Linked DNA regions of Homo sapiens: region 1 is linked to region 2. Evidence: fine-mapped expression QTL. A gene starts in region 2. The other region holds a variant in brackets. All regions are shown on one strand. Distances are between the middles of the regions. Region 1 holds the start of RNU5A-1 (RNA, U5A small nuclear 1). Region 2 holds the start of CILP (cartilage intermediate layer protein).

The links.
Region 1: its variant is fine-mapped to the expression of CILP in whole blood (TOPMed, PIP above 0.99).

Annotation. Positions count from the first base shown.
Region 1 is chr15:65,288,743-65,296,742 of GRCh38, forward strand. RNU5A-1 (RNA, U5A small nuclear 1) reads left to right here and starts at 7,309; the gene lies at 7,309-7,425. RefSeq lists an enhancer at 7,436-8,000. The variant C/T (reference allele first, on the strand shown) is at 4,867.
Region 2 is chr15:65,202,298-65,219,217 of GRCh38, forward strand. It overlaps CILP (cartilage intermediate layer protein), which reads right to left and starts at 9,176. Exons shown (of 9, transcript NM_003613.4): 1 at 9,131-9,176; 2 at 7,398-7,564; 3 at 5,375-5,467; 4 at 4,485-4,754; 5 at 2,990-3,169; 6 at 1,971-2,285; 7 at 1,065-1,173. The coding sequence starts at 7,458. RefSeq lists an enhancer at 9,805-10,706.

The DNA of each region.
Region 1 (8,000 bases), 82 kb after region 2:
CTCGGCTAGAGCACAGTGGCTATTCACAAGCATGATCATAGCACATTGCAGCCTAGAACTTCTGGCCTCAAATGATCCTCCCGGCTCAGCCTCCAGAGTACCTCAGACTACAGGCTCACACCACCACACCTGGCTTAGAGAACACATTTTGTTTACTCCTGTCCTTTTAAATTCATTGAGGTTTGTCTATTGCCTAGCATATGGCCTATCCTGGAGAATGTTTCATGTGAATGTATATATTCTGCTGCTGTTAGGTCAAGTGTTCTATGGATGTCTGTTAGGTCTAGTTGATTTATATTGTTTTCAAATCTTAGATTTCCTTGTTGATCTTCTGTTTATTCTATTCATTATTGAAAGTGGGGACCAGGCACGTGGCTCACACCTGTAATCCCAGCACTTTGGGAGGCCGAAGTGGGCAAATCACCTGAGGTCAGGAGTTCGAGACCAGCCTGGCCACTATGGTTAAACCCTGTCTCTAATAAAGATACAAAAATTAGCCAGGCATAGTGGCACGTGCCTGTAGCCCCAGCTACTCGGGAGGTTGAAGCCCGAGAACTGTTTGAACCTGGGAGGCGGAGGTTGCAGTGAGTTGAGATCATGCCACTACACTCCAGCTTGGGTGACAGAGTAAGATTTCATCTCCCAAAAAAAAAAAAAAAAAAAAAAAAAAAATCACTGACAGGAAAGATATCCACCTGAACAGGTTTTTAATGCCGATGAACATGCCCTATTCTGAAAGAAGATGCCACAAAAGACACTTATTAGTAAGGAAGAAAATCGAGCACCAGGATTTAAGGCAGAAAGGGATAGGCTGACTATTGTTCTGTGCAAATTTGGTCAGGTTTATTATCAGAACTTCCCTTATCTGTAAAGCTGATAACCCCCAAGCCTTGAAGAGAAAAGATAAACACAAGCTGCCACTCTTGGTACAACAAGAAGGCCTGGACAAGAAGAACCCTTCCTCTGGATTGGTTGAATGCTTTGTCCTTGAAGTCAGGAAGTATTATATCTTGCCAGTAAGGAGCTGCCTTTTATTTATTGAGACGGAGTCTTGCTCTGTTGCCCAGGCTGGAGTGCAGTGGTGCGATCTTGATCTTGGCTCACTGTAACCTCCACCTCCCAGGTTCAAGCAATTATCCTGCCTCAGCCTCCCGAGTAGCTGGGATTACAGGTGTGTGCCGCCACGCTTCGCTAATTTTTATATTTTTAGTAGAGATGGGGTTTCATGATGTTGGCCAAGCTGGTCTCGAACTCCCAACCTCAAGTGATCCACCTGCCTCAACCTCCCAAAGTGTTGGGATTACAGGCGTGAGCCACCATGCCCGGCCAGCAGGAGCTTTTCAAGTTCTTTTGATATTGGACAATGTTCTTGGCCACCCGGAACCCCGAGTTCAACACTGAAGGTGCAAGTGGTCTACTTGCCTCTGAATAGGGACGATGTCTGTAATTCATCCTCTAGATCACGGGGTCATAAGAATCTTTAATGCTTATTACACCCAGTACTCTATGGAAGGGATCGTCAACACTATGGGAGAGGACCTCAACCAAGAGAACATCATGAACGTCTGGAAGGATTACACCATTGAAGATGTTGTAGAAAAACATGTGAAGGCCATCAAACCTGAAACAATAAATTCATGCTGGAGAAAAATTGTGTGCAGATGTTGTGCATGACTTCACGAGATTTATGACAGAGACTGTCAAGGAAATCAAGAAAGAGATTGTGGATATGCAAAAGAGATGTGTGTGGGGTGAAGGGTTCAAGATATGAATCTTGGAGAAATCCAAGGGCTACTAGATGTCACACTAGAGGAACGAATAGATGACTTGGTGGAGATGAGTGCCTTCGAACCAGTGCAAGACGATGAAGATGATGTAGAAGACGCAGTGCCGGAGAACAACTGACATTAGACAATCTGGCGGAAGTGTTCCTAGTATTCAAGACTGCTTTTACAACGTGGACCCTTCTATGACATGGGCACTGAAACTAAAGCGAGTATGCCTGCCTCCCTTCTACCTCCACCTCTTCCTCCTCTGCCACTCCTCAGACAGTAAAACCAACCTCTCCTCCCTGTCCTCAACATACCCAACGTGAAGACAATGAGGAAGACTTTTACGATGACCCACTTCCACTTAATGAATAGTAAATATATGTTCTTTTTGTTTATTTAGTGGGGTTTTTTAATAGTAAATATATATATATATATATATTTTGAGACAAGGTCTCACTCTGTCACCAGGCTGGAGTACAGTGGTGTGACCTCACTGCAACCTCTGCCTCCCAGGTTCAAGCAATTCTCGTGCCTCAGCCTCCTGAGTAGCTAGGACTATATAGATGCATGATGCCATCCCCAGCAATTTTTTTTTCTTTCTTCTTTTTCTTTTTCAGTAGAGACAAAATCTTGAACAGGCTGGTGTTGAACTCCTGGCCTCAAGTGGTCCTTCTGCCTTGGCCTCCCAAAGTGCTGGGTTTACAGGTGTTAGCCACCATGCCCAGCCTATTTTCTCTTCTTCTTTAATAACATTTTCCTTCCTCTACCTCATTGTAGTAAGAATACAGTATATAATACGTTTAACACACATAATATGTGTTAATCAACTGTTATCTGTAAGGCTGTCGGTCAACAGTAGACTATTTGTAGTTAAGTTTAGGGGGAGTCAAAAGTTATATGCATCAGCATGGTGGCACATGCCTGTAATCTCAGCACTTTCGGAGGCCGAGGCGGGCGGATCACTTGAGGCCAGGAGTTCTAGACCAGCCTGGCCAAAATGGCAAAACCCCGTCTTTACTAAAAATACAAGAATTAGCTGGGCGTGGTGGCACATGCCTGTAGTCCCAGCTACTCAGGAGGCTGAGGCAGGAGAATCGCTTGAGCCTAGGAGGCGGAGGTTGCAGTGAGCCGAGATCAAGCCATTGCACTCCAGCTTGGACCACGGTGAGACCCCATCTCCCCACCAAAAAAAAAAAAAAGTTACATGCAAATTTTCAACTGCGAGAGGGGTCGGCAACTCTAACCCCCCATGTTGTTCAAGGGTCAACTGTATATCTGTTGTTTTTTTCTTTTTTGAGATGGAGTCTCGCTCTGTCACCAGGCTGGAGAGTAGTGGCACGATCTTGGCTCACTGCGACCTCCGCCTCCTGGGTTCAAGCAATTCTGCCTCAGCCTCTCTAGTAGCTGGGACTACAGGTGTGTGCCACCACGCCCAGCTAATTTTTATATTAGTAGTAGAGATGCGGTTTCACTGTGTTGGTCAGGGTGGTCTCAATCTCCTGACCTCGTGATCCACACACCTCAGCCACCCAAAGTGCTGCTGGGGTTACAGGTGTGAGCCACTGCACCTGGCGCCTGCCTGCCTTTTTTTTTTTTTTTTTTGACAGAGTCTAGCTCTGTCACTCAGGCGGGAGTGCCGTGGTATGATCTCAGCTCACTGCAACCTCCACCTCCCGGGTTCAAGCGATTCTCCTGCCTCAGCTCCCGAGTAGCTGGGATTACAAGCACACACCACCATGCCCAGCTAATTTTTGTGTTTTTAGTACAGACCCGGTTTCACTGTGTTGGCCAGGCTGGTCTCAAACTCCTGACCTCGTGATCCGCCCGCCTCAGCCTCCCAAAGTACTGGGATTACAAGCGTTAGGCACTGTGCCCGGCCTTTTTTTTTTCTTTTTGAGACAGAGTCTCGCTCTGTCGCCCAGGCAGGATTGCAGTGGGGTGATCTTGGCTCACTGCAACCTCCATTTCCCAGGTTCAAGCAATTCTCATGCCTCGGCCTCCCCAGTTGCTGGGATTACTGGCGCCCTCTGCCACACCCGACTAATTTTTGTATTTTTAGTGGAGATGGGGTTTTGCCATGTTGGCCAGGCTGGTCTTGAACTCCTGACCTCAAGCAGTCTTCCCACCTTGGCCTCCCTAAGTGCTGAGATTTCAGGTGTGAGCCACCATGCCCGGCCAGTTGTTTTTCTTTATGTTTTATGCATGTCTTATATATTTTATGCTCCTTAAACAGGCACTTCACCAAAGAAGATACATGGATGACAATTAAGCACTTGGGAAGATGCTCAACATCATTAGTCATGAGGAAAATGCAAATTAAACCAGAGATACCACTACACACCCCACCCGTGGAAGTGGTTTAAATTTAAAAAATAAAACGAACAATTCTACATGTTGGAGAGGATATGGAGTAACTGAAACTCTTATACATTGATGGTGGGAATATAAACTGGTAACTACTCTGTAAAAACAGTTTTTATAAACATCCACCTACCATAAGACCTAGCAATACCCACTTCTAGGTGTTTAGAGAAGTGAAAACTCTTGCTCAGACAAAAATCTGTACAAAAATGTTTACAGCAGCTCTGTTAGCAATCACTAAAAACTGGACATGACAGGTGGATGGGTAAATAAATCATGGTACAGCCATACAGGAACAGAGAGGAATGCAACATGAGTGAATCTCAAGGCATCATGCTGAGCACAAGAAGCCAGTTCAAAGGGTATGTGCTGAATGTTTCATTTAAATGTCGGAAATGGCAAAAGTATTGTTGGAGGACAGGTCAGTGTTTGTAAAGGATTACAAGTAGAGGAAGGTGTGACCACAAAGAGCAGCATGAGGAAATTTTGGAGTGATGAAACTATTGTGTATCTTGATTGTGGTAGTGATTATGCAAATCTATGTACATGTTTAAAAAGTCATAGATGCACTCAGTATGCAATGAGGATAAAATAAAAAATAATAATTTAAAATCATAGATCTGGCCAGGTGTGGTGGATCACACCTGTAAAAAAAATACAAGTAGCAGCAGGACATGGTGGCTTGCACCTGGAATCTCAGCTACTTGGGAGGCTGAGACCTGGGCAACAGAGA[C/T]CCTCTTATGGTGGCTCACGCCTGTAATCTCAGCACTTTGGAGGATGAGGTTGTGGGATTGCTTAAGACCAGGATTTCGAGACCAGCCTGGGCAACATAGGAAACCTGGTCTCTAAAAACAAAACAAGCAGTGGCTCAAGCCCGTAATCCTAGCACTTTGGAAGGCGGAGGTGGTCGGATGGCTTTGAGGCCAGGAGTTCTAGACCAGCCTGGGTAACATGGTGAAACCCTGTCTCTACTAAAAATACAAAAATTAGCCAGGCATGGTGGCCCCAACTGTAGCCCCAGCTACTCTGGAGGCTGAGGTGGGATCACTTGAGCCAAGGAGGTGGAGATTGCAGTAAGCTGAGATCGCACTTCTGCATTCCAGCCTGGGTGATAGAGTGAGATCCCCTCTCAAAAAAACAAAAAATTTTTTTAAGACAAAAAAAAAAAAAGAAATCGTAGATCTGTATACCAGAAAAATTCAATTTTACTGTTAACTTAAATATAAAAATAATTGCATGGAAGCATTATTTACAATAACCCAAGAGGTGTAAACAATACCTGTCCATCAACAAATGAATGGGTAAACAAAATGTGGTGTACCCATATAATGGCATATTATTCATCCTTAAAAAGGAATAAAATTCTGGGTGGGCGCGGTGGCTCACGCCTGTAATCCCAGCACTTTGGGAGGCCGAAGCTGGCAGATCACCTGAGGTCAGGAGTTCGAGACCAGCCTGACCAACATGGTGAAACCCCATCTCTACTAAAAATACAAAATTAGCCAGGTGTGGTGGCGCATGCCTGTAATCCCAGCTACTCAGGAGATTGAGGCAGAAGAATCACTTGAACCTGGAAGGTGGAGGTTGCAGTGAGCAGAAATCGCGCCATTGCACTCCAGCCTGGGCAACAAGAGCAAAACTGTCTCAAAAAAAAAAAAAAAAAAAAAAAAGGAATAAAATTCTGATGCATGCTACAACATGGATGAACCTTAAAGATATTATGCTAAATGAAATAAACCAGAGACAAATGAACAAATATTCCAGATTCCACTTATATGAGGCACCTAGAAAGGCAATATCATAGAGACAGAAAGTAAAATGGTGGTTGCCAGGGGCTCAGGTGAGAATGGGGAGTCATTATTTAATGGGTTTTGGGATGATGAAAAAATTCTGAAAATGGAAAGTAGTGATGGTTGCAGAACAGTGTGAATATATTTAATACCACTGAACTGTACACTTAAAAATGGTTAAAACGGTAAGTTTCATGTGTATTTTAGCACCATAACAAAACAAACTTTAAAAATTTAAATGAAGGCTAGAAAACATGTTAAAATACACTATATATAATATATAATGTATATATATGTAATATATAATTATAGATATATACTATGTAATTATATATAGTATATATTATTTATATAATATGTAATATATATATTATATATATGCAAAATCTCGTGAAGAAAGTGAAAGAAGAGCTGGCGGCTGTCTCACGCCTGTAATCCAGCAACTCCGGAAGCTGAGGCAGGAGGCTCGCTTGCGGCCAGAAGTTCGAGACCAGGCTGGGCAAGAAAGCCAGAACCCGTCTCTACGAAAAATACAAAAACTAGCCAGGTGTGGTGGCGCGTGCCTGTGGTCCCAGCTAGTTGAGAGGCTGAGGTGGGAGTATTGCTAGGAGGGAGTTTTCTAATAGTTGGGGCGGGGGGGGGGGGGGGGCATTTAAGTGCAAAGGAATGGTTAATACATATTCCAGATAGTGACTACCCATATAGCGAGTGAGGGGTATGATAGGGGAAATGGGCCAACGAAGGCTTCAAAGATGTTAACAATATACTTTTTGAACTGGATGGGAGACATCAGTGTTTTATTACTTTTGAATTATGTATGCACATAGACTATATACATTATTTACGAGATATACTTAAAAATCTTTAAGATGTTTCTATATTTTAGAGACAGGGCTTAAAAGTCCTGGGCAATTAGCTGGGCACAGTGTCGTGCGCCTGTAATCCCACCTAGTTGGGAGGCTGAGGCAGAAGAATCTCTTGAACCCGAGGTAGAGGTTGCAGTGAGCCGAGATCGCGCCACTGCACTCCAGCCTGGATGACAGAGTGAGACCCTGTCTCAAAAAAAAAAAAAAAAAAAGTCCTGGGCAGCAAGGCCTCCACTTCACCCCCTAAAGGTTGCCCCAAGAGCACCGTGTGACTGCTAAGGTATTTCCGGAGTCTAAAGACGATTATTCAGGTCTCATTTGCATACCCATAATACACTGCAAACAGTATTTTTTTCGGAAAAACATTTATATATTGCTTGACATTTTTAAGTATGAGAATTTTGCATGCAGAATTTTTTTGTATAAACTTTCTCAGGTAGTAACCCTTGGGATTAGTAGACACCATCAGTGTACTAGGAATTGCAGTTACCCGAAAATTGAGTTACAGAAGTAACTGGTATACTCTGGTTTCTCTTCAGATCGCATAAATCTTTCGCCTTTTACTAAAGATTTCCGTGGAGAGGAACAACTCTGAGTCTTAACCCAATTTTTTGAGGCCTTGCTTTGGCAAGGCTATATGTGGTAATCCAACAATAGAAATTATTTTTAAGTTTGTGTGTTCCTTTTTCTGTTCAATGGTGCTTTTGATATTGTTGTAAAGCAGTGACTAGCAGATTCTGTGTGGTAAAAGCACTGAACCCTGTTTAGTTCTTTTCTCCCTACCTTATTGGTAATTATTTCTGTGTATATATGTTCCAAAGAAATGCGGCTTGTATATTCATGCTTTTCAACTTTTTGTGATAGACAGTTGATACACAAGTAGTACCTCCTCCGGGATCTTCTTAGTCAAGACTGTTTGGTAGATGCATGTTTTTTGTTACTTGTAATGTACAGTATTCAGTTCATTTTCTTTTTGCAGCACTGTCCGGTTGAAACACAACGCGAGGATCGGGCGTGGTGGCTCACGCCTGTAATCCCAGCACTTTGGGAGGCCGAGGCAGGACAATCAAGACCAATCCTGGTCATCAAGGCAGGAGAATCAAGACCATCGAGGTCAGGAGATCAAGACCATCCTGGCTAACACAGTGAAACCCTGTCTCTACTAAAAATACAAAAAAAATTAGCCGGGCGTGGTGGCAGGCGCCTGTAGT
Region 2 (16,920 bases):
GTCTATAAAATGTCAGCAATGACTTCTAGCTGACTTCACAGGACTGTTGGATGGGTCAAATAAGAAAGTGGCTATAAAATGTTTGTGAAGGATAAAGGACTCACAGCCATAAGGGATTCTGCCCTTGTTTGCATTTTTTTTTTTTCCTGAGATGGAGTCTTGCTCTGTCGCCTAGGCTAGAGTACAGTGGCATGATCTTGACTCACTGCAACCTCCGTCTCCCAGGTTCAAGCGATTCTCCTGCCTTAGCCTCTCGAGTAGCTGGGATTACAGGCATGCACCACCACGCCCAGCTAATTTTTGTATTTTTAGTAGATATGGGGTTTCACCATGTTGGCCAGACTGGTCTCGAACTCCTGACCTCAAGTGACCCACCCTCCTCGGCCTCCCAAAGTGCTGGAATTACAGGCATGAGACACCATGCCTGGCCCCTTGTTTGCTTTTATTGGGAAAAGCAGGACCTAGGAACTTTGTTCTGTGTCCTGATGATATACAAGTCTGGACCCCAAGACCAGAGATGCTCCAGGGGACCACAGCTTTTTTTTTTTTTTTTTTTGAGACAAGATCACACACTGTCACTCAGGCTGGAGTGCAGTGGTGTGATCACAGCTCACTGCAACCTCCGCCTCCTGGACTCAAGCGATCCTCCTACCTCATCCTGCCGAGTAGCTGGTACTAGAAACACAAGCCTGCAAACCTGGCTAATTTTTTGCATTTTTTATAGAGACAGGGCTTTACTATGTTGTCCAGGCTGGTCTCGAGCTCCTGGGCTCAAGCAATCCACCTGCCACAGCCTCCCGAAGTGCTGGGATTACAGGCGTGAGCTACTGTGCCCGGCCAAAGGGTTCCCCCAGCTTTGAGGGTACAATGAGAGAGCTTGCTGGTTGTCTGGCTCCCAACCCCATGGCTCCCATTTGTAAGTCCCAACATCCGGGCTCTGTACCACTGTCTTACTTGTAACTTTATTCTGTTGGTTATTGTTCTTATTAATAAGTCCAGACCCAATGCAAGAAGCTCTGGTTTCCAGGAGGAGAATTGGGCAGGGTAGCTAGCAGAATACGCACCAAAAATACTTGTCTGGCCTGGGCTTCCCTGTGGCCTTACAGCACAGAGACACGCTCTGCCCAGCTCTCCGTGCTTTTGTCTCAGGGTTCATCACCATGTATGGAGTCTCTGGGACAGAAAATGAGAAATAGCATTTTGGGTTTTTGTGTGTGTGTGTGACAGGTTCTACAGAGCCTAGCTCCCTCAGGGTCTTTGATGTTGTGAAAATTATAAGGCTTCACCCCTACCCCCAGCCCATCTCCATTGGTCCTAAGGGAATTGGTTCAGAGTGGAGTCTATCCTTCCACACCCCCAATCCTGGGACCTCTCCCATGGCCTGTCAAGCAGCATCTGGGTGGGTCAGTGGTGAAACAAGGGGACCTTGTGTCAGCCAAGATTCCAAGCACTACCTTTGGGACAGAACTGACTGTTTTAAATAGTGCAATATTCATGTTCTGCTGCCCCTGGCAGAATTTTCTGGCCATCCTGCACCATTTCTGAACTTCCCAAGCCTTTCTCTCTGTGACCTGCAAACCGCACACTATATTGTATTGACCGTTAGATAAGGTGGCCAGGGAAGACCTCATACATTTGAGGGAGCAAGCCACGCCAATATCTATGGGAAGAACATTCTAAACAGAATACATGCAGCAAGCACGAAGGCCCTGAGGCAGGAATGTGCCTGTGTGTTTGAGGAACAGATAGGAGCCCATTGCAGTTGGAGTAGAGTGATTTGGTGTAGAGCGAGTAACAGGAGAGGAGAGCAGAGAAGAAATGGAGGGCCAGATAATATAGTGCCATGTGGGCCATGGTAAGGATTCGGGGTTTTACTCCAAGTTAGCTGGGAAGCCAGCTTTTAGCACTATAATCCCTTTATTTAAAAATCTGGACCTTCTCACCAGCCCTACCCCAAAGAATTTAGTTACCTGCCCTCACAAACTCTGCCTTGATGGTGGCTGCCTTCAGGCTAGTCTTGGGCATTGTGAGTACAATGGGGGCAAACTTGACCTTTGTGATCTTCAGGATGCTTTTGCCATCAGGGCACAAGCCAGGGATTCGGAATCTCCCATCACTGTCTGTCTGGGTCAGCAGCTTCGGCGTCTTGGTCAGGAGGTAGATAGCAGCCCCTGAGGCTGGGGCACCTCCGGGAAGGGAGACAGCCCCATGAAGCATGAAGTCCTGGCACATGCAGGCATCACAGTCAGCATTCACCTGGCCCATTGGGCAGGTCAGGTCACAGGCTGTGGAACAAGGGGCCATATCAGCAGGGATTCTATGGATTCTGGCATTCCTTCAGCCACATCACAGATCACTTCCTCTCCTCCTTGGCCTTTGCTACCCTCCCTTATCAGCCTGCATGACTAACTCCCACTCATCCTTTAAAACTTATCCCAAGGCCAGGCGTGGTGGCTCACACCTGTAATCCCAGGACTTTGGGAGGCCAAGGTGGGTGTATCACCTGAGGTCAGGAGTTTGAGACCAGCCTGGCCAACATGGTGAAACCTTGTCTCTACAAAAAATACAAAAATTAGCTGGGCATGGTGACACGCACCTGTAATCCCAGCTACTAGGGAGGCTGAGATAGTAGAATCCCTTAAACCCAGGAGGCGGAGGCTGGAGTAAGCCAAGATTGCGCCATTGCACTCCAGCCTGGGCAATGGAGCAAGACTCTGTCTCAAAACAACAACAACAACAACAACTTAGCCCAAAACACCTCCTCTAGGAAGCTCTCCTGGATTCCCCCAGGCTATGATAATTGACCCTGCCCTGTGTTCCTATATTATCCTGTATATCTCTCATTAGGGCACATAGTAGATGCTCAGTTAATACGTGGTGAGTAAGTAAATGAAGGAATCCATCAGTCTCAAACTGACCCTCTAACTCCCTCCTCATTCTTCAGCCTCACCCACCACACCCTGCCCAGTGCCAGGAGGGAGGGTGGTACCTGTACAGTCCTGGCCCATGCAGTGCTGACCCTCTTCGCTGGCCTCACTGCACAGCGACACCATCTCTGCCAAGCAAATGCGTGTGCGAGTCTGGACCCCAGTCTGACCACAGGCAGCTGAGCACTTGCTCCAGGGAGACCATGGGCTCCAGATGCGCTCTGTGTCTCGGCGCAGGGATCCTGCAAAGTGAGATCAGCAGACGGTCTGATTTCCCTCTTGAGGGAACTCTGTCAGGAAATCTGACCCTGAGGCTGTTTCTTCTCTGGTAAAGACAAGGTTTCCATTTATGTCGTAGATGTCACTGATATTTATATTTACTGCAGTGATTTTTCCAACAGACAAAATTCTTGAGGAAGTGAGGTCTCTAATTTGCACAGAGGCACCATATGGGCTAGGGGTGGCCCTGAGCGGTGCTTGTTGGCCAAGCACTGGGACTTTGATATGCTGTCCTAGGATGTGCAGGGATAGCACTGTCTTTCTTCTTCACCAGTGTGGAAACGGCCACATGCTCCTATGGAAGGACTCCCTGGGAATCAGGGACCCCTGGGAAGTCGGGGCCTGCAACATGCAATGACTTGGACAAGAAGCCCATTTCTGCCCACCTTCCTCACCTCTGGCCTGAGGCCTGTGTACAAGAATGGGGTCTTCACACCTTGCTCAGATCAGCCTGAGCTCCCATCCCAGATGACCACCACTGGCGTCTGGGCCTGGGGGATCTTGTGGAACCCTAAGGGAGAAGATCCCCATCCAAGAAGGGAGCAGGCCTGCTCCCCATAACATCTGTATTATCCATGGTGGGAGGGGATATAAATGCATAGACTCTGCAAACACGGACATGGTTCAAACCCCAGCTCTGCCTTATCAGCTATGGAATCGTGAGAAGTTACCTAGCTTCTCTGAACCTCGTGTAACTTGTCAAGATGGAGATCTCTCAAAGGTCAGTTGTAAAGGTTGAATAAAGTGGATAACTAGCACAGTATCTGGCACATAGGAACAAGAATAGAAACTAACACTCAGTGAGCATTTACCTGGGTTAAGCCTCTGCATTCATATCATTTAATCCTCATTAAAAACCCCTATGAAGACTTACTATTACCCAGGTGTCACATATGAGAAACCTGAAACTAAGAGAATTTCAGAAAATTTGTCTAGGGGACACATCATATTGCGGGCTCAGAATTCAAACCCAAGCAGCCCCACTTCAGAGCCTGTGGTCTTCACCATGGTACCACTCAAACATAATAAAATAGGTTGAATAGAGAGTACCCATAAACACAAAACACTATTGGAAAAGTTCTGGCATTAATGACACTACTTGTTATTATTACAGAGTCCAAGCATATGCATGTGTGTCACTACTTGTTATTATTACAGAGTCCAAGCATACGCATGTGTGTGATGCTGAGAGTTCTGGTGGCCAGAGGCAGGTTCTCCCTCTCCCTGAGTAGAGGCCAGTGGGAAGTAGCGGGTGGGGGTGGGGGCGTTCTGGCTTACCTGGTGGGCAGAGGAAGCGTACGGTGTAATTAGAGCAGTTCTGGCCAGGCCGCTGCTCCCTGTTGAGGCACCAGAAACCCTCACGGGGACTACCATGGACCACCTGGCCAGTGCTGCCCGCAGGTGTCCAGTCAGTGGTCCGAGCCTCTAGCCGCAGGGGACGGGCACATACACGGTCCCCATAGTAGAAGCGAATGGCGTCCAGCCGCTCATAGTCGCCCTTCCCGCCTGGGTAGTCGATGTTGAACCATGTTGTCCACTCACCAGGGCCTGAGAGACATAGCCAAATTGCGGAGGAGCCGTGATCCTGGTGCGCTCCAGTTCTCCTTTCCCTCTCACCCACCCCCAGCTGGCCTCAGGCCCTATCACATTTGTCTCTCCAGTATCTCTCCAATCCCCTCTTACACCTGCCACTGCTGAGGCCTCCATTCAAGCTCTCATCAGCCTGACTGAACCATGTCAGTCACTTTCCACATCAAGGCTCCTCCTCAATGCCACTCACACCCATCCCTGACCCTGCAGTCAGGGTGAGCTTTCTTCATGTGGCTCGGGCCACATCACCTCCAGCTTTAAGATCGTCTAGCTAGGCATTCAGGGTGCTGGTGAGCTGTCCCCAGCCATCTCTCCATACTCATCTCCCCACTCCCTTCCCACCAGCCTGTGCTCTGGCCCCAGCAAGCTCCACAGCATTCCTGAAAGGTATCAGGCAGATTCCTGATTCTGAGCTGTCTTATATACTAAGTTCCTTGGCTGGACAGAGATGGAGGCCAAATGCTTGTAAAAGTGGGTTTCCATGGGACCCTGACATCATGCCCTGGCTTCAGAGATCCACTTCGGAAGCTCGTTAAAGGCTGCCCCTCCAGCCCCTCCCTGCTTCAGCCACAACTCACTCTCCAGGGTGTCGGCAGGCTTGGCAAAGATGCTGGGGTTCTTCTTCCCAGGCTGGACTCTTCTTACTGACTGGGTGAGCATCGTCTGTCTCCCTGAGGGCCAGAAGGAGAAGCTAAGTGAGAGGCCAGGACTGGAAGTTACAGCATTCCTCAAGATGCAGGGAAACAGTGTGAGGTGGTGAATGGAGCATGAGCACCAGGCATGGGTTCAAACCCCACTCTGCTACTTATTGCTGTGCAATCTCAGAAAAGCTTTACTCCTCTGAGCCTGTTTCCCCATAAAATAGGAATGCACTAATAATTGCTGCATCCTAGGGTCCTGGTGCATTATTCAGGTGATAATGAATGTAAAGAGACCTGGCTTGTAGTGCACACTCAGTGAATGGTATCTCCCTTTTCACTCTTGTTCTAGAAATGGATTATCAGATGCTCCTGAGCAGCCAGTGGCCTGGGACTCCTGCTTTGGTGTCTGCACCAAACCTTCTTGGCAAAATGGAGCTTTGTTTTCCTCATGTGTAAAATGGAGATATTTATTCCCATCTCGCAGGGTGATTCAGTTGGCATGAGGATTCCATGAGCTAGAACGTAAAAGCCTCTGAAGTATATGCAGATTGACAGTGTGGGCTCCTGAGACTCTGCCAGTTTCTAACTGTGTGACTTTGGGCAAGTTACTTAACCCAGCTGACCCCATGTTCTTTCATCATAAAATAAGGATAATGATAGTTCCTGCCTTAGAGTATTGTGGGGATTAAATAAGCTCATTCATAAAATCCACTTAGAACAACACCTAGCACATAACGCATACTGAATAAGTGCTAGCAACTTCTTTTAGCTCAACGCCAGAATAGATGGCCATTTACTTTCCCTTGGGAGTCCACTCTCCCATAAAGACTCCTATGGCCTAATTGGGGCAGCGGTCCTCAATTTTCCATACGAGGCTGGCAGGGACTGCCTGAGGATGGGTACAGGGTCCTCGGGCCACAAGCAGTTCCAGCTGTACCCTACCTGAGGCTGGGTTGGGGTCTCCAGAATGGGAAGGAGAATGCGGAGCAGAGGGCTGCAGAAGCTTTGACAGGCAATTAACGCTTACTCCAGGAGCCAAATCAGAATTCTCTATGCTGCTTAATTGGGGTGATAGGAGCTCTTTTAATCAACCTAATCTGATTTCCCCTCAGATGGTTGAATGTTAATCATCTTCACAAGCAGCAGCTGTCAGGGTGGAAAGAGCAAGGCAGGAGGCAGGCACATACAGGGGTTGGCTCCAGGCTGAGACAGCCTTTGTTCCTGCATTTGTAGCCACAAATCCTGCAAGGCATACAGCTTTAAAGGAGGGTTTTGAGCTTTTTTTTTTTTTTTTTTTTTTTTGCTTTTGCTTTACCTGAGTATGTGCTTAGAAATCAGGAGAGGAAGGGGAGGAGGTGGGAGAGAGTGTGCAGGGGAGGGCTGACGCTTAGATGCCTTGGGAAGTCTTCTGTTCCACCAGACAAATTCTTTCTACGAGTTCCTTCCAGAGCTCAGTATCACCAGAGGATGCAGTCAGAGGGCAAGGAGACCGGAAGGGGTTCTGGTGTGTCTGTGAAATTTGGCTGCAGGGTCTAAATGAAATTGAGCTTTGGGCCAAAAGAATCTTCATAAAACTAAAAACAGACCAAACCCCAAACCTGCTTCTGAGATCTCACTGATGCCCTGTGATTCCCTATTACTTTGGCTGCCAGGAAGCTCGGAGCTCAATTTGGTACTCAAGGGCTAAAAATAACCCTCTTATCTTTTTTTCCTCCCTCTGAATGACTGCTCATCCCTCTTCTCATATAAAGGTTCTGTTTTGTGAGTTTTAATAATGGGAACAATCTCAAGTTTTGGAGAAAAACAAACAGGGTATAAATTACGAATAAATCCATAAAGTGGCCTCAGGTCTTAAGGCCTTGCTGTGTCTTAAGGCAGATGCATAGTTCAGTCCCAGACCAGACACAACCTCACTGTGGCAAGTGGAAGATTTGGGAGCCAGCAGATACTTAGCCTATACCCAACACAGATGTGACTTCCAGGACCAGGAAGGAGAACACCCAGGCCTTGGTCCCCACCATCTTTCCCCCAAGCCCGTGGGAACGTGGCAAGAGGTAGATGTGGGTGCTTCACAGAGTCACTGACTCTGGAATGCGGTCCCCTGGGAAGTTTCTCAGATCCAGTGACCTGTAAAGAAACAAAGCTTGTCAGGTTTCATATTTCTGAATCACCGCTTATGGCTCAAGCAGAAATATTTCTTGACCTGTCAAGGAGGGAAAGGTGGACAGAATGATATGAAAGTGATATCTGCCTGAGTTGTGAAACCAGGTAGCTTGGGAGGTGCAGAGGCTCAGAATCTGAGTTCAAATGAGGCAGACTAGGTTCCATCCCTGGGGGTAGGCTCCAGGGCCCCACATGGAGATGAGGCACAAGGACAAGCAGGGGCGAGGAGGTTCCTTGCAATGAGGAGAGTCCAGGGCTCACCCCCAGCAGCCTCTTGGTGACTCGTCACTTCTAAAACCCAGGCCTGAGGGGCATTTGTTTTGCCATCCTTTGATGGAGTTCACACTCTCACACAGGCGGGTACATATTAAGGCCGTGAAGACTTGGCTCCGACTCCAGTGGCCTCTCATAAGGCAGGCTGGCTGGAGGGTGCAGATGCCTCGGACATACCACCTCCATGAACACATTCCCAGATGTGCACGGGCTGCAGCTGGAACACATTTCTGGCCTTTTTGTTTGGGGCCTGACTGGGAGTTACACAGCCAGGAGCCAGCTGACGGAAAGCAGAGGGGATGCATTGTGAGAGGCCAGGGCTCCCCAGTAACTGCTGAGCGTGGGTGAGGAACTGCAAGGGTCAGGAGAGGAAAGCAGGCCTGGGACAAGGGCAAGGAACTATGGGGCGTGCGTGGCCCAGGCCGCAGCTGAGCAGAACATTTTTATGTCTCCCCAGAGCTCCGGCCAACCCAGAATCTGACTCGTTTCTGGGGATTCAAAAGTGGTTCCCTTCAACATCCTAAGTCCAGGGTGTGGTAGGAAAGGGAAGAGTCCTCCTCTCTAAAAAATACACATATCTGAAAACACTGGGATATTCCAGGGGAAGAAAAAACCAGTCCCATGCTGCAGACCTTCTAGCTCTAAAACCACTGGCCCCACCACTACCTGTTTCTCGGATGAGGGAGCAGAGTCACCAGGACGTCCCAAAGGCCTCCACATTGTGTGTATCCCTCTGGGCTCCAAGCAGGGAGCTGAGCAGTCTGCTGGCCTGCACTGCATTCAGCCTGAGCCTGAGCCTGCTCCAGGGATGTCTGGAGGCTGAGGTGGCCTGAGACACCTTGTGGAAAAACCATTTCCCATCTGGCAGCCCACAGAGGTTTCTCAGCATCTCCGCCGTTTCCTCAGCATATGCCCTGATGGTTAGGCTTGCCATCCCACGCTCCTCAGAACACTTGGACAAAGCAGACTGGCTGACCGCAGGGAATAAAGCAGGGCACCCAGAGGTATGGAAACCCTAAGTGGGACCATCTGGGGGTTCCTGTCCTCAGGTGGGGGAGGGAGAGGACTTTGGGCCAATGGGGGAAAGCAGATTCCCAAAGCAGAAAGGGAGTCTTCTCTGTGGGAGATGAAGGATCAGGCAGCAAAAAGTGGGGGGAAGTGGGGAGAAGGGAATGGAGTAGTCAGGGGAGGGCAGGAGCAGTTGAGTCCAGCAGTGGGGTGCAGGGATGGGGTGAGGGGAATAGGAGTGGAGCTCACCGTGTCTTGAGCAGGACTCCTCAGCTGGGGGTCCAAGCCTTCGCCTCTCCAGCAGTCCAGTGCCGGCCTTATATAGCACAGCTGGTGGCTCAGCCTGTGGCAGCCAGCCAGAGGAAGCAGCAGCGAAACCAGATCTGAGCATGAGCCTCCCTCTCCCCTCCCCATGTCCCCTTGCAGTTCACAGAGGCCAGGATTTTATGTCCAGATCCTAAGGAGGAGATGCCGCAGGACCTGGTGATGGGCCAGGTGGGCAGTGGCCTGGGGCATCACAGTCCAGAGCAGAGAGAGGGGTCAGGAGGTGGGCTGGGCACTAGAAACAGCCCTGGGAAGGGGCCACGGGGAATTCTAGATCTGGGCAGCATTTCATGGCCCGGGGGATGGTGTGCTCTTGCCTAAGCCTAGCTTGCTGATGCCCCACATTCCCCTGGCCCTGGCTCGCCCACACAGAGAAAAGACTTTGCTGGTCTTAGCACATACTCCAAACACTCTTAGGCACACAGGCCACCTTGGCCTCTCAGCTGGGTGTGTCTGGTCTGAGTTGGGCAACTACTCAGCTTCTCTGGCTTCTGAGGGAACACTCAGGGAACCTCAGAAGGGATAAGGGACAAAAGAATTGTGGGGCATAGGTTGTCAGCTGGTGAGAACAGTTCTTCCTTTCTCCCCCCCACTTCCATCTGAGTGCCTGCTGGTACCCACTGAGACCCCAGAGCTCCAGCATGTGGACTCTTCTGAGACCCTGATGCTCATATATGTGCATGCGTGTGAGTACGTGTCTGCCTTCAGGTATAGGCATCCACCAGCATGTGAACAGCCAGTGTTACCCATAGGGGGCGTATGCAGCTGCATGTGCTCTGGGGCTTCACACCCCCACTCCCGGCCCCCTGGCCCCAGCATGAGGTTATCTGTTTGCACAGACACTGGTTCTCTAATTTTAGCATGTGTTAGAATCACCTGGAGGGCGGTTAAAGCAGATTTCTGGACCCCACACCCAGAGTTTCTGATTCAGTGGGGCCTGAGACTTTGCATTCTAACAAGTTCCCAGATGAGATTGATGCTGTTGGTTCATGGATCACATTTTGAGATTGACTGGTCACAGTGATAGAGCCCCAGTTGAAGGAAGAAGATGAAGAGCGAGTGTACTAAGGACCACAGTGGGAGCTTCCCAGGTCCTGCCCCATGTAGCAGGCTCATCTAGCCTGGGCTGGGCTTCCTGCCTCATGCCAGCAACTGGAGATGGAGGCCTGGTCCTGTGGCCATCCACGCCAGGGTCAGCTCACTCTCTCCACATACCTTTACCGAGCTCTTATTCCCAGGCTCTAGACTGGGCACTGGGAAGGCACAAGAAAAGAGATGTATCCTTGCACTCAGAGGAAAGAGCCTCACGTGGAAATGATCCCGTAGTACAACAGTGCATACCCACATGCCAGAGAGTTCTGTGTGTGTGTGTTTATGCCTTTTCCTGTGTGTATGTGTCTTTCTGTGTGTGTGTGTGTATGTGTGCGTAAGAGCTGTTTTTTCTGAGCATTGCCTTTGACAAGATATACTGGGAGGCTGGGTGGAGTGGCTCACGCCTGTAATCCCAACACTGTGGGAGACAGGGGCGGGTGGATCACTTGAGGTCAGGAGTTCAAGACCAGCCTGGTCAACATAGTGAAACCCATCTCTACTAAAAATAGAAAAACTAGCCAGGCATGGTGGAGTGTGCCTGTAATCCCAGCTACTTGGGAGACTGAGGCAGGAGAGTGGCTTGAACCCAGGAGGCAGAGGATGCAGTGAGTTGAGATCGTGCCACTGCACTCCAGCCTGGGTGACAGAGTGAGACTTGGTCTAAAAAAAAAAAAAAAAAAATCTGCTGGGGAAGAGAGTGGGGGTGGAGAAAGGATGTTGAGCAGCATGGTTCCCAAGTAGACCTGGGGCATAGATCTGATTTGCTTTATCTCCTGGAGCCCCGTCTCCCTCCTGGCCACCAGCCCTTGGTTCATAAGCCCTGTAGTTGGCCCTAGTCTGGTCCAACTTGTCAGAGCCAAGCCATGACTCAGTTTCAGCCATGGCTTTGACTGCAGACGTCTGAACTGAGTGAACCCCATGTGAAATCTGATGGCCTAAGGAATAGACAGACAGACAGGCTGAGCCACAATCCCCAGATCAAAGGACAGGAGAAAAATTGAAATTTGGAATTCAGAAGCCTAGTCCTGGCTGTTTCTGATTCTGATATGCGACCGTGAACTAGCAAGAACCCAAGTAACCCTGGGCCTCAGGTGTGCAACGGGAGATGGACTGAGTGAGTTTGCAGGCCCCTGCCAGCTCTGAGATTGCAAGGTTTGAGATATACAGATGCTCTTTGGCTTATAGTAATGTCCCAATAAACCCACTGTAAGTTGAAAATATCATAAGTAAAAAAAATACGCTTAATGCACCTAACCTACTGAACATCAGAACTTAGCCTAGCCTACCTTAAATATGTTCAGAACACTTACATTAGCCTACAGTAGCCTACAGTTGTACGAAACCATCTAACAAAAAGCCTATTTTACCATAAAGTATTGATTATCTCATGTGATACATTGAATACTGTACTGAAAGTGAAAAACACAATGGTTGTACAGGAAAGTACAGTTTCTACTGAATTTGTGTCACATTTGCACATCATAAAGTCGGAAAATTGTAACTTGAATCATCCTAAGTTGGGGACCATCTGTACTGACAGCAAACAGAGCTGGGAGGAGAGAGTGGAGGGAACGACTGCTCCTACGTGTCTGGCAGAAGTCAGAGGAGCCAGTGTGGAGTCAAGGTCAGGAGGAAGTCCAGAGAAGCAGATATGACCACCAAGGCTGGATAAGGACAGCAAGAGAGATACACAGGAAAGGAAGGTAGTGGGAGGTAAACCAGAGGGCAAGGTCAGGGTAATCAGCTGCTCTCCAAGGCCTTCATTCTGTGGAATGCCAGGGTGGGTAAGAGACGCCTCCCCAGCCTCCCAGTCACCTCCATCTCTTTCTGTAGTGGGAGGCAGGGTACCCTATGGGTGAGGATTGGGCAAAGTGGAGTGTTTTAGGCCAGGATTCCTGCCTGGGTCTCCTCATTCAGCCCAGCACTCACACTGAGGCCCTCACTTACCTAGCCCCAAGTGGCCAGTGCGTGTTAATATGGTAAGTACAGGGTTGAGGGCTGCGTTCCAATTCCACCATGCCATTTCCGTCCACCTGTCTCATATCTTGCCTCCTCCCATACTCCCATCAGAGTCCTTTCCTGTCTCCAAGTAGGAATGAGCTGTGTGAGCTGCACAGGGCTAGACTGGGGAAATCTGAGCCTGCCCTCACTCTCTCTTCCCAGGACTCCTTTGGGGGGGAAGCTATTGCTGTCCTCAACCAGGACCCCAGAATAGAGAGGGCTTTGGAGGTGGCCGTAGGTCTAGACTGTCCAAGGCCTGGCCTGGGTGGGTCAGCCTCAGCCACGAGTGGCCATCTGGGGCTTCTGCAAGCCAGGCTACTCTGCAGCCACTCCAAGCTTCTGCCTGGAACATGCTGGAAACCCATCAATCACCCCATCCCTGCCCAGGGGATGAAGGGACTTGGAACCCAGCTTAGCTAGGCCACCTGTAACCCAAGCCTATAGCCAGGGGTCCACACCCTGCACCCTGCAGTGGGGAAAGGAGCTTGGGAACACTGGGAGGGGTCTGACCTGATCCTGGTGGCTCAGGAGGAGGGTGCTCTATCTGACTCTCTGACCACCTGCCCACCACCTCTGTCGTCAACCCCTGTGGCTGGAGGAGGCCTTGGAGGCCTGTGGGGGGATAAGCAGCTGATAAACCTTGAAGAATGGAAGCCTTGGCTGTAGTTCTGAGTGACCATCAGTGGCTGCTGCCCCACTGCCTGGGAACACAGAAACCCAGAGTCCAGGGTGGTAGAGGGGGCTCACCCTCTGACCAAGTTGCTCTCCTCCCTCTCCTGGGTACCCTCTGTCATTGTTCTACCTCTGTGCCTTTATAATTTTATTCTCCAGCTTCCCATCTTGAAATACGGCCCTTCTCCCTCACCAGTGTGAATGTCCTTCTTCAAATCCCTGTCTCAGTGTCCTCCTTCCTGCCCTCTGCAACTACCCAGGCCCATCTTGAGTACTTCTTCCTCAGATCTCAGATAATAATACACAGTCACATGTAGATGACACTCTGTCATTTACAAGGCACATTAGTGGTGATCATCTCATCTTCAGTTTCACAGTCAATCTGTGAGGCAGGGATCAGCATGCCCATTTTACAGAGGATGAACTGAGGCTAAGAGGCATGAAGTCACTCAGCTATGGTAGGTCTTCAGCTCCAAGTTGCCCCTGTGAACCAGAGGTCTAATGTATACCTTGTCATAGGGTCCTCAGCTCAGAGGACCCACCATGGAAGTCACACCCCAACTGTAGGCTCCTCAGTGGGCACATGCCTAGAACAGTCTGTCCCACCTGCCTGGCATACACACCCTGCTTCCTGTATATATACTAATTCCAAAGATGTTCCCATCTAACATAATCCAGCTATCTACCACATTGTGGTGGATTAAATATGGCCACACATTCTTTGCAACTCTCCCATTATGAGGTGGAGCCTATTTATTCATTCCTTTGACCTGGACTGACTTTGTGACTTGCTTTGAATAAAGGAATAGAACAGAAGTGATGTTGCATAAGTTCTGGAGTTTAGGCCTCAAGAGAGCTTACAGTTTCCACCATCGCTCTCTTGGAACATTGTCTACCATCTAAGGAAGTCAGTCTATCCTACTGGAGGATGAGAGACCACATGGATAAGAACTGAGACCCTGAGCCAATGGCCAGACAGGTGAATGAGGCCATCTTGAACTTTCCACACATGCAGTTGCCTGAGAAAGTCCAGATGAGACCAACAGAGGAATGGTCTGGACCTTGATTCTGTACAGCCAACCCACAGAATCATGAGAAATAATAAATCATTGTTTTAAGCCACAGAGCTTTGGAGTGGTTTGTTATGCTGCAATAGATAACTGATACACTAAGAGTAAAAGCTCTTTCAGTTGCAAGTAATAAAGCACAACTCAAAATTTTTTTTTTTTTTTTTTTTTTTTTTTTGAGACAGAGTCTCACTCTGTTGCCCAGGCTGGAGTGCAGTAGCATGATCTTGGCTCACTGCAACCTCCACCTCCAGGGTTCAAGTGAGTTTCCTGCCTCAGCCTCCCAAGTAGCTGGGATTATAGGTGAGTGCCACCACGCCTGGCTAATTTTTGTATTTTTAGTAGAGACTCAGTTTCGCCATGTTGGCCAGGCTGGTCTCGAACTCCTGACCTCAGGTGATCCGTCTGCCTTGGCCTCCCAAAATGCTGGGATTACAGGCATGATTCACCACGCCCGGCCTCAAAATGGTTTAAGCAGAAAAAGAATCTGATGGTTCTGATGATGGAAATCTTGGTAAAAGTTGGATCTAGGTACTCAGACAACATCATTAGAACTTTTCTTTTTCCATATCTCAATTGCTTCCTCTGGATGGCTTTATTCTCAAGGAGGCTGTAGCAATCTGTATTTTCCAAAGATGGCTGCAATGGTATTTCCCCTTCCTTATGTTCTCATACAATGTAACTACACTAATCCACCATCAGGAGATAGAATCTAATTTTCCTCCCCTTGAATCTGAGCTGGCCTCATGACTTACTTGTAACCAATAAGATAAGGTCTACTTTTTTTTTTTTTTTTGAGATGGAGTTTCTCTCTTGTTGCCCAGGCCGGAGTGCAATGGCACAATCTCAGCTCATGACTACCTCTGCCTCCCGGGTTCAAACAATTCTCCTGCCTCAGTCTCCCGAGTAGCTGGGATTACAGGCATGCGCCACCACACCTGGCTAATTTTGTATTTTTAGTAGAGACGGGGTTTCTACATGTTGGTCAGGCTGGTCTGGAACTCCTGACCTCAGGTGATCTGCCCGCCTTGGCCTCCCAAAGTGCTGGGATTACAGGTGTGAGCCATTGCGCCCAGCCCTTTTTTTTTTTTTTTTTTTTTTTGAGACAGTCTTAATTAGCCAGTCGTGGTGGTGGGCACCTATAATCCCAGCTATTTGGGAGGCTGAAGCAGGAGAATCACTTGAACCCAGGAGGCGGAGGTTGCAGTGGGCTGAGATTGTGCCACTGCACTCCAGACTGGGTGACAGAGCCAGACTCCATCTCAAAAAAAAAAAAAAGGGTTAAGAGTCATGATATGAAAAAACCACTTTAATAGCTGTCAACCTCAGAGTTTACCCATCATTTGTTCCGTTCCAAACCCACCTATGTAACCCCTGCCATCTTGTAACCATAGCAACACACTCCAGAACAGTTGAGCAAAACCAAGCAACCATAATAACAACTCCAACTTAGGAAATAGGAGAAAAAGAAAGAAACCTTCAGCACTGCACATGCCACACTGGTTGCTGTGAATACTGCAGCGTACTGATCAGCACCTAGTCTTGTAAGCATGTGCTTACTCAGCGGCCATAGGTGGGAGAAGATTCCCAGAGAATGGGCTATGATCACAGCAGATACTCCAAAACGTGCTCAGTAGAGCTCTCCACCCTCTGCATAACACGCTCACTGTGGTCACCCCAGAATGCTTCTCAAGCTTAAAGCAGGGTCACCTCAGTGTTCCTATGATGGATTCAGCCCAGTCAGGGCCTTATGTTCACACACAGCATCTATAGCGTCCACCATGCTTATCACAGTGTGTTCACACACACCCTAGAGGCCCGTGTTTTCACCACTGACTACAGAATTCATGCAATGTCACCATGACATTCAACAAATTTACCATAGTATGTTCACAGTCCATAGCGTCTTCACCACACTTTCATAGTTTGCTCTCATTCAGTGACATTGTAGTGTTCACTGCATGAACCAGCTGAGTTCCTACTCTATATGTGCACGTCATAGTGTTCATACCACTGTATCCCCCTTGTATTTCCCATGAACATCCACATTCACAATTTTGTATAGGATTAGGGGGTGCACATTCACCCAGGTGTTATCTCAAGAGTGTTCACCCTCCCCTGGCTATTCACACTCACCATGGGTATGCCCTGGGTGTTCTAGGGCATAAGCTCACCCATGCACCCACCAGACTCTGCTGCTCTCCTTCCCATGACCCGAGGCCTCTTCATGACTCTCTTGAGAGGTCCCAGATGGCTCTGGGTGTGGTGTGGCTTCAGCTCTGGCCAAGATGCTGGCAGCCCAGAAAAGCCTGCAGCAGTGACAGGGGTGGCCTTGGTAGGGGATGAAGTGAGGTGGATGCTGGGTAGATGCCCTCTCTGGCTATATGTTCTCCGGACACGTGGGTATTTTATTGGTTAGAAAACACAGCTGTGAGAAGTTGAGTGGGAGGAGCCGCCCTCTTTCCAAGCAAAATCTTCGCCCATATAGCACCTGGGCCGTAAGGGTTTGGTCCCTGCCCAGGTCACCACCAGGACTCTAGCCCAGGGAAGGTGAAATGGAGGTTAGAAAGGCTGGGTCGCCCTTGGCAACTGGGCCTACACAGATGGCGTGGGACAGAGGGTGGGACAGAGACAGACACGTGGCCCTGCAGACCATTCTTAGTGGGTTTCCCTTTTTTCCTCAGAAGCAAGGCAGTCTTCAGTGTGGCCGAATCTGGGCAATGTTTTCTCTAGGAGAACAAGAGCTTCAAGGGCAGGATGTTGGGCAGTGACAAGGAAGACAAACAAAAGGGAGAAGGAATTTGAATCCCACCCCCAATTTTTAAAAGTTGAAATTTTTATATTGTAAAATTCAGTCTTTTGGATCTACACTTCTGTGATTTT